2 linked regions of the Homo sapiens genome follow. The protein of the gene in region 1 purifies or fractionates together with the protein of each later gene. This does not show direct contact. Each region holds a gene or a part of one and is shown on either strand. Other genes may lie near its edges.

What was found.
Region 2: the proteins of RASL12 (region 1) and RAP1GDS1 purify together in Homo sapiens (affinity purification with mass spectrometry; one large-scale study listed by BioGRID and IntAct). This does not show direct contact.

What each region holds. Positions count from the first base shown.
Region 1 is NC_000015.10:65,064,140-65,070,374, forward strand, and holds the start of RASL12 (ras-like protein family member 12), read right to left. Parts: upstream 3,853-6,235; 5' UTR 3,697-3,852; coding exon 3,594-3,696; intron 1,135-3,593; coding exon 1,078-1,134; intron 1-1,077.
Region 2 is NC_000004.12:98,418,384-98,421,883, reverse strand, and holds part of RAP1GDS1 (rap1 GTPase-GDP dissociation stimulator 1), read right to left. Parts: intron 3,228-3,500; coding exon 3,093-3,227; intron 1,866-3,092; coding exon 1,740-1,865; intron 630-1,739; coding exon 490-629; intron 1-489. UniProt on the Homo sapiens protein: Acts as a GEF (guanine nucleotide exchange factor) for the Rho family of small GTP-binding proteins (G proteins) that stimulates the dissociation of GDP to enable subsequent binding of GTP.

The sequences.
Region 1 (6,235 bases):
TTGATTTGTTTTAGAAGGGAATCTAAGCTATTGTGTATGGGAATCCATTTGAGGAGGAAGGAAAAGCAAAAATGCATTGAGTGCCTACTGTGGGTCAAGTACTAGGCTGGATCTTTTACATGTGCTATTTCTTTAATCCTCACAGCAATTCTCTAACTATTTTTTAATGCCCATTTTACAGATGAGGAAACAGTAGCTCAGAGAGGTTAGCTGACTGGCTCAAGGTTGCCAATAAGGAGCAGAGCCAGGTAGGATTCAAACCCAGCTCTGACTGACACCGAAACGTTCCTTTTTCCAATATACCATGATGCAGCGATGAAAACAACAGTTGTTTTCTCATACGGTTAAAAAACTGGTTCAGAAGCCAGCACCACTAGAGAATTTCTCGAATGTCCTGCCCAGGTTTTCTGGAAGAGAACACTGAGTGACCATCTTGAAGAATAATACCTATTTGTTTTTGAGTTTTTTTTTTTTTTAGACAGAGTTTCCCTCTGTCGCCCAGGCTGGAGTGCAGTGGCACGACCTTGGCTCACTGCAATCTCCGCCTCCCGGGTTCAAGCAGTTCTCCTGCCTCAGCCTCCCTAGAAGCTGGGATTACAGGCACACACCACTATGCCCAGCTAATTTTTGTATTTTTAGAGACGGAGTTTCACCATGTTGGCCAGGCTGGTCATTAACTCCTGACCTCAGGTGATCCACCCACCTCAGCCTCCCAAAGTGCTGAGATTACAGGCATTAGCCACCGCACCCGGCCCAAGAATAATACCTGTTTGGATGTGGATGTCTTGCTATGTTTATTTTTATTTTTTAAAGTTTTTTCACACCTCATATTTTAGGGTAAATCAGCCTCTCTTAGTTCTGTGAATTAGGCCAACCCCCCAGTTGTCTGGGGTGGGCTGTGGAAGGGGTATTTCTGACACTTAAAACATTTTCCCCCATGGGCTGGGTCATCCTGGCGGCTTCTCCCTTCTGTCCCCAGACATGCAGTCCTGGTCAGTGCCCACCCACGGGGTGGGTCCCAGGAGAGCACTCCAGATGGGGCACAGGCAGCAGAAGGTACGGGGAGTAGTTTCTTACCCAAGTTGGGGTCATATTCACTGATAAACCTCTTGGTCAGAAACTTCACGGTCAGGGCTGCAAGAAGCAGAAAGAGGTTGGCTCCATCTCCGCGGCCATGTCTAGCTGCTGGCCCCTCGTTTAAGGGAGGCCTTATCTAACCTCTGTGATCCCCGGCTGACACCAAGCTCAGCTCTCCCAGAGAATGAAGCTAGGGAACTGAGGAATTGGTTTGAAAGGCTCAGAAGGAAACCAGAACTACGGGGAGCCAAGTGCCTCTAATTGCACCGTGGGAATTTTTTTTAATGGCAAGGAAAGCAATGAGTGGCAAGCCTAAGGGGTGTTTGGAAGGTATGAACTCAGGGGTCAGGACCCATGCAACCATTACCCTAGAGTCAGCCTGGTGAAACCTCAACTGAAGGGAGGTGTCGCCCACCCCGGACAAGTCACAGAGATTCTGAAGTGTGGGGCTATTTACTCCAGGCTTTAGCTACAAGCCAAAAACACAGGAAGAGCAGAGTTGATTGCAGTGGTTGATCTTTGGGAAGGGTATAAATCCCCAAGTGCCTGGGCTTTCCAGGTAAGGTCCAGGTGAGGTCTGTGTCCCGAAGAAACACACTCTGGTCCTGGTCTCCCACATCGCAAGTCTTGGCTTTCTCTGGGGCCTCTACACTCATCATGGATATCTCAGCAGAATGTAAAACTCAAGAATTAAGCTCTCTTTGGTTCAGAGTGTAGCCATATAAAGCAAAGACCAGCCAACTACTATACTGGACCCTCAAAAAGTAATGTTCGCTACTGCTTGTTTGGAAAGAAAGAAAAGAAAAGAGAAGAGAAGAGAAGAGTAGAGAAGAGAAGAGAAGAGAAGAGTAGAGAAGAGAGAGAATAAAAGAAAGAGAAGGAAAGAGAAAGAAAGAAGAAAGAGAGAGAAAGAAGAAAGAAAAAAAAGAAAGAAGAAGAGAGGGATGAAGGGAAGGAGGGAGGGAGGGAAAAGAGAAAGAGAAAAAGGAAGGAAGAAAAGAGAAAGAAACAAAGACAGAAAGATAGAAAGAAAGAAAGAAAAAGAAAAAAGAAAGAAAGAAAAGTAATGGGATGCCTGTAATTCCAGTGCTTTGGGATTGAGACCAGCCTGGGCAATGCAGTGACACTGTTATCTCTAAAAAAATTGAAAAATTAACCAGGCATGGTGGTATGCCTGTAGTCCTAGCTACTCAGGAGGCTGAGAGGGAAGATCACTTGAGCTCAGGAGTTTGAGGCTATAGTGAGTCATGATCGCGCCATTGTACTCCAGCCTGAGTGACAGAGACACTGTCTTAAAAAAAAAAAAGTGACATTGTGAATAAAATCCTTAAAATTCTTTCCTAGGATTCCTAACGGTGTCAGTTTGCAAACTAATACCCAGGGAATACATATTTTAAAATTTAAATTCTTTCTTTTATGTAGTCACTGGCTAAACGGTACCGGTTACAGAGCTACGGATAACAATCTGATTTTCAAAGGGCAAATCTTTCAAAGGAAGAGGGTAATCCCTTCTGTAGGAAAACCAGATTCAGAGTCCCCTCTCTGGGGGTGGGGCTGGCTTCAAAATCAGAGAGTAGGCCCCCAGTGAGTCTTACAGAACACTCTGGGGAGGAAACCCACAGCCAGCTGAGCTTGGGTTGGCCATCACTAACGGCTAAAACTGGAAAAACAGCCAGTGGAGGACCCCTTCTGCCCTCCCTCCTTCAGCCAGCCAGGAGTGGCATAGTTCAGTGTTGACACAAATTATCTCAATGGAAGCCCAAGATCTTGGCTCATCAAGGACAATCCCATGCACCTGGAACCATAACCCAATGTGTTTCCAGAAAGTTGAGAGGGGTCTGGCTTGAAACGAACACATTTGATAAGAATGCACAACTTGTCCCAGAATCCCAGGGAATGGGGGTGGGAGTGGGGGAGTGGACCTTCCCTGAGAAATCTCAACAGCTAGTGACTTCACCAGCTCCCTTCTACGGGGAGGGGGTGTGGAGGGGGAGGGGTTGGACGGGAAGTCTTCCCCCAAGCCTAATCAGGGAGTAGCAAGGCTGCGACTAAGCTCAAAGAGGCGCCTTGGGTAGGGGGATCAGTGCCCAACAGGTCCCTTTGAAGCCAGTCGCCAGGACTGACTGCTGGCCCCAGGGTAGGTCATAGGGGTGGGGGTTGGAAGGTTGGTGGCAGGGGAGACCGACCAGTAAAGGACTCCGAGACACACAAGAGAGAGGGGAGAGACAGCAGGGGTCACTGATACGGAGGACAGAGACAGTGGGAAGACACAAAGGGAAGAGGCAGGCAGGGAACAGAAGACAGAGATGGTGGAGCTGAGCACAAAGCCGAGAGAAGAGAAAGCCCGGCAACAGGGAAACTGAGGCAAAGAAAATCACGGTGTCTTGTGCGACCCTCCTGGGTGAAGGAAGCTCCCCAAGCCAGTGGAAGAACCTGCCCCCAAGAGCACAGCCCACTGTCCCCCCACCCACGCCCAGCTCCGCACTTGGCGGCTCAGGCTCCCCGGCGCCACTCACCAGACTTGCCAGCCCCGCGGCGCCCCAGGATGGCCAGGTTGACCTCGAGGGGCGCGCTCTGAGGCCCGCTGCCCGCGCGGGGTTTTCCAAACACCGAGGACATGGCGACGCCCTGGACGGCCACGCAGGTCTGCGGCCGGTGGGCCCCGCGCAGTGCGCCCGCCCGTCGGGGCCCAGGGGAGCGGGATGCAGGCTTCCCTGGAGCGCGCGGCCCCGGACCCGTCGGCGTCCGCGCCCTCGGCCCCGCGTCCAGCGGGCTGCCACCCCGCGGGGAGGAGGGGCCGGTGGAGCCTGGCGGGCGGGGCCACCCCAAGCGCCACCAAATTCCTTGTAAGGGCTGCGGAGCCCCCCGCGGGGCGCGCTCAGCCGGCTCCTGGAGCAGGGAGGGAGCTCCTGCCGGCCGCGCCCCCACCGCCGGGCTGGGCCTCGAGGACCCTGCCGTCACCCTCCCGAGCGCCCCCAAACCCGGCCGGGAAGGAGCAGAGAAGGAGCCCCAGGGCTAGGGGGAGAGAGGGGAAGGATGTTTGCACTCTTCCCTGAACCTCCCACTCAATCTCTTTTCACCAGCAAGAAAATCCACCCCTCCCTTTGTTCTACCAAGCCAGCCCCGCCTCCTCCTCCAGGAAGCTTCCTGGGTTCAATTCCAAGCCTTGCCCTTTCTTTAGCTCAGCCTTGGCACTCTATATCCCCAATCACATTATTCTGCCCTTTGCTGTGGAGACTCTAGAGGCCTCACTGCAGAACCCATTCGGAACCCAGGCTTCTGGGAGAGGGGGCGGGGCGGAGAGAACCCCTCACTAAGATTTCAGGGCCAATATGGGTTCAGCTTCAAGAAACCTAATCCATTCTGAATTACTGTCTCTCCCTAATGGGAGCTAATGAGTTGCATGTGTTTGTGGCCTGTTGTGTAAATGGGGTGTTTGTTCTAAAACCTGGCACTGCCTCTTGCCTACAGCAATTCTGGGATTGGTGGTGAGCCTGGCAGGGGTCCCCTGGTCATTCCCCTTGGGACTCAGGGTAAATCTGGTCATACCAAAGACAGGGCAAAGGGCCCACACCACGAACCTGGACACTTAGGATCTAGTGCTAGCTCCTGCCCTAGAGTAATCTTGGGCAAGTCACCTTGCTTCTTTGGGCTTCGGTGTCCCCATATATAAATACTGAAGGAAGGGGAAAATGAAGCAAAATAGAGAGTGACAGAATCAGCCCTGGGCTCCAGGCCTGCGTACATTCTAGAACCCTGTGAGGCATCTCTTCTGGAGTACGCTCCAGGTTAGAGCAGGGAAAGGCATGGGAGCCTCAGAGACCTCTCACGGCAGCCCTTCTCCTTCCCCTTCCCGCAGATGGTTAACTCATCTACCCACCCACCCACAGAGGAACCATGGAAAACCAGGTGTGCAGGCAGGGCCCAGGGTCAGAGCTGGATGGTAATAACGACTCTTCAAAGAAGAACAATTATTTTCCTGGCCAGGACATGAATATTGACTCAGCCTAGTTGTGTTTTGGGGAAATCATGGTAAACCAGCTGTGTTATTAAGGTAGTGGGTGGAATTTGTTTAGATTACACTCTCAGGCCAGAATTAGTCACACAGCTAATGGCCAAGGGTTTTCCTTTGAGTTGTAGGAGTTGAGAAAGTGGGAGCCAAGTTCCAGTCACATCCCTGGGCTGGCCCCATTCTGTGAAGACAGACTGGTTCCAGATGGGGCCTTTGGGGATAGAACCAATCTCAATGGACAACTGCTGGAGGCAGGGCTAACTGTGGGCCTGCACGGGCCCAACTGCATGTAAACTTAAGCTCTGCTACTTCTCAGCTTGTGTGATGCTGGGATGTTACTTGACCTCTATGTGGTCTGTTTCCTCATCTTTAAAACTTGACCAACCAGGAGATGGGAGCTGCAAGATTCTAGCTCAGTCTGAGGGTGAACTCTGTAACCATCTGACTGTCCATAGTTAGAAGGGACTGTCTTTGGTGGAACTCAACCCCTCTCCCCTGACACTGGCAGCAACCAAGGGAGTGACCACGTCAAGGAAGTGTTAGAGAAGAGACGCCTTCATGACTCGAATGTTGCAGTAAGATGACCCTTAATTCTCTTCCAGTTCAGAGATTATTTGAGCTGGTGGCCACCTGGTTACTGGGGCCCTCAACTGTGACAGCTCATTGCTCAAAGTCTGCCCCTTCTCTGAGGCTTGGGAGGAAAACAGTGCCCACCTCATGGCTGCGACCTATCCTTTTCTCCATCCCCAGTTTCCTCACCCAGGGGCTGCTACTGTCAGACCCTGGAATAAACTACTTTGCCCTTCTGGGTCTCTGTTCCTCATCTTCAAAATAGGGACAAACCTGGGCAACATGGTGAAACCCTGTCTCTACAGACGCATATAAAAAAATTAGCTGGGTATGTTGGCATGCAACTATAGTCCCAGCTACATGGGAGGCCAAGGTGGGAAGATAGCTTCAGCCCAGGAGATGGAGGCTGCAATAAGCTGTATTTGTGCCACTGCACTCCTGCCTGGGTGACAGAGTGAGACCTTGTCTCAAAATAAAATAAAACAGGGACAATATCAATAAGTATATTAGATAACATGTGTCCTATCCAGAGCTTGGCCCATGGCCCAAGGAAGTGGAGGTTAGTTCTGTCTACTC
Region 2 (3,500 bases), on another chromosome or scaffold:
ATAATCTAGATACTAAATCAGCTGCTGAACTGCTGGCCTGGGTACTCACTATTGTGATCTTTAAAATAGCTCATTTGTTCATTTATTGGTTATCTACCATGTGCCAGACAGCGGCACAGCCAGCCACAAGAATGGATTTTTTTCTAACTCTGTGAGCTCTGGACATCATATACTATCTAGGTACCATTTAATTTCTAAATATCAGTAGGCTGCATGGTCAATGCCTGGCACAAAGAATGTTTGACACTGATGCTGATAACGGTGGTGGTAAAAGTAATAACAACAATAGCAGCAGCAACAACAGCAACCCCCATTTACCGAGTGTTTCCTATATCCCATGTATCAGCTAAGCACATTATATACATGATCTCACTGAATCTTCACAATACTTTCAGGTAAATATTATCCCAGTTGTTAGGACCTACAATGCTGGGTTTCTGAAAAAGACACTCTGAAGTTTTCTAGTGAACAGTTTCCTCTGGAACTTACTTTTGATTTACTGTGTCGTATAAGGGCAGACAGCAGTCTGTTTGACTCCCCCATCACACCAGCATGATCTTTGGCTTCACACCATTCCACCAAACGCTCCACTAACTTAACATTCTTTCCCAATTGTTCAGCAGCTTCTGCTATAGGAAAGAAGGCAAACCAAGGAATGAATCACTAACAGACAATCAGTTGAAATAATTCGTACAGATTTGAGAGTGTGAAGGACGTCTAAAAAAACACAGCACGACAATTTCATTAAAGCTAGAACTGCAAATATTCCTTATGTGATGGGCTATTTGCCTTCTTCTGTAACACTGTGAAATTTTATAGAAAATACAACAACAAATGACTTCATACTCTTTTGGTTAAGCCTGCTAGTCTGTTAGTGCTCTGGCGGACTATAATGCAGGGTTCTTAGAAAGACTCTATGCAATCAATATAGAAAAGGGTTTAAAATTTAGAAATAAGTAAATAAACATAATTCATTCCTAGGAGTGGTTCTGACTGCTGTTTCTGCAAACAGAAAAATGCTCTCCCTGTCTGGAAGACAAATTTAAAAAATTTTTGACTGTCACAATAATGAAATTTGATTTCAAAGCCAAGGTAAAAATGGGTATAGAATGCCAAAACACAACACCCCCTGCCGAAACTGATGAATAAAGCAACCTAAAACCAGGACTATAAGTACTAATAAGGAGAGATATGGTATAATTTCTATTTAAAGTCAATTATAGGCTGGACATGGTGGCTCACACCTGTAATCCCAGCACTTTGGGAGGCTGAAGTGGGTGGATCGCTTGAGGCCAGGAGTTCAAGAGCAGCCTGAGCAACAAGCCCCATGTCTAGTGAAATTCCAAAACAATTAGCCAGGAGTTGTGGAGCATGCCTGTAATCCTAGCTACTCAGGAGGCTGAGGCAGGAAAATTGCTTGAACCCAGGAGGCGGAAGTTGCGGTGAGCTGAGGTCGCACCACTGCACTCCAGCCTGGGTGACAGAACAAGACTCTGTCTCAAAAATAAATAAATAAACAAATAAATAAATAAATAAATAAATAAATAATATGTATAAATAAATAATTATAACAAGCATAAAAATTAACAAATGGAGTTCCAAAACCAACTTTTAAATCTTTTATTTGCTATTTTTTATGATTACATAATCCTAAAAGCTAAAAACAAGTCCTTTTTCAACTAGAGGCACATTAAGACTATCATATGAAAAATGCAAGTTGGGGAAAACATTTCTTTTACCTTGTGCATCTATTAACATTCTTAATGTTCCCAGAAGTTTGAACTGAACAGGAGGCATTTCAGATTTAAGAAATTTCAAAACTGCCTCTGTGACCCCAGCTGATAACATCTTTGCTTTATTTATAACTGGAGAAAAAGAGAGACTATGGTTAAAATGGTATTAGCATTCCTGTTGATAAACATTCAATTCAATACAGGTTTATTAAGTATCTTTAAGATCCATGTTTTATTTTTCCATTTAGAAACAATCTTGTCACTTTTTTGTCAATTTTAAGAATGGAATTCAGTTGTTTATGTGTGTGTCCGTATCCTATTTGTGTATAAGCGGATAACAGACAATATAATAATTTTTATGACAGTATCATGGCTTTTTAGATCCAATCCAAAACACTTACTTACATAGTTTGTAAAGGAAATCTGAAAATGTTACCCTCTTACAACAAAAAGCACAATTCCGTTTTTGATCCAACTGTGTTAATATAAATGTTATAGACATTAATAAATGTTACTATCCTATGTAAACCAAATGAATTCAAATGGATTGGATCATCATGTAATTGTACTATTTCATCTAATCAGAAATTTATTTTTAGAAAGTAGGATAAAAGAATAGTTTTAACTATCTTTTGTTGTATTTTCCATAATACAGTGATTTCATGACTTCCAAAGGCACATTAAGGCTATTTTAAAAAAATTGTACATCTGCTTATAGAAAAACAACAACTGAAAGTCATTCTTGAGTGGACTCTGTTAATTGATGTCATTATTCTACCTCAACTAAAGATGCCTAAGGCCTGGTGCAGTAGCTCTCACCTGTAATCCCAGCACTTTAGGAGGCAAAGGTGGGTGGACTGCTTGAGCCCAGGAGTTCAAGACCAGCCTAGGCAACATAGTGAGATCCTGTTTCTACAAAAAAAAAAAATCAGCTGGGCATGGTGGCACATGCCTGTAGTCCCTGTTCCTCAGGAGGCTGAGGTGGGAGGATAACTTGAGCTCAGAAGGTAGAGGCTGTGGTGAGCCAGGACTGCGTCACTGCACTCTAGCCTGGCTGACAGAGTGAGACCCCATCTCAAACTTAAAAAAGCTTAACTATAAAACATGATGAAAATCTAACAGTTCGCAAAAGGTAACAGGATATCTGAATGAAGGCAAAGATTATTCTTGTACAGTCTCACAAAACTTATTTAACATATGATCTCCATTTATTAGCATGAAAAAATGTGAACAATGTGAAGACTATTTTTTTTTAAATTTTCTTCATCAGAGCAGGTTCACAAATCACATACAGTTAATAGCTTCCCCAAATGATGGATTTTATTTTGTACACAGCTGCCTTCTATTCTTAAGTCTTACCTGGAATGGCCAGGTTTCTGAGGGCACTTAGTGCTGCATGCTGTACTGTTACATTTCCATCTTCTACATGTCTGTCCAGTAAATCCATAAGTTTTTCTACAATCCCATTGTCTACCATATGAATACAATTTGCATCTGAAAAAAAAAACACACATCTTTTTCTTCCTCTTTAAAATATCTATAAATACTTTATAATACTGATGTCTGGCTATTATCTACATTAGGGAAAATGGAGCTATACAATAAAATGAATTCCAAATCTTTCTCCCATCAGATTTATAGGTTTTTCTGTTTACTGAGTGAGAAGTGTTAAAAAAAATTCTTAAACTAGATAAAAGTTTTAAAATCAGAAAATTACCAGAAAAATCTTTAGTTTAGAGCCAGATAATATATCAGAAGTAGAAACAC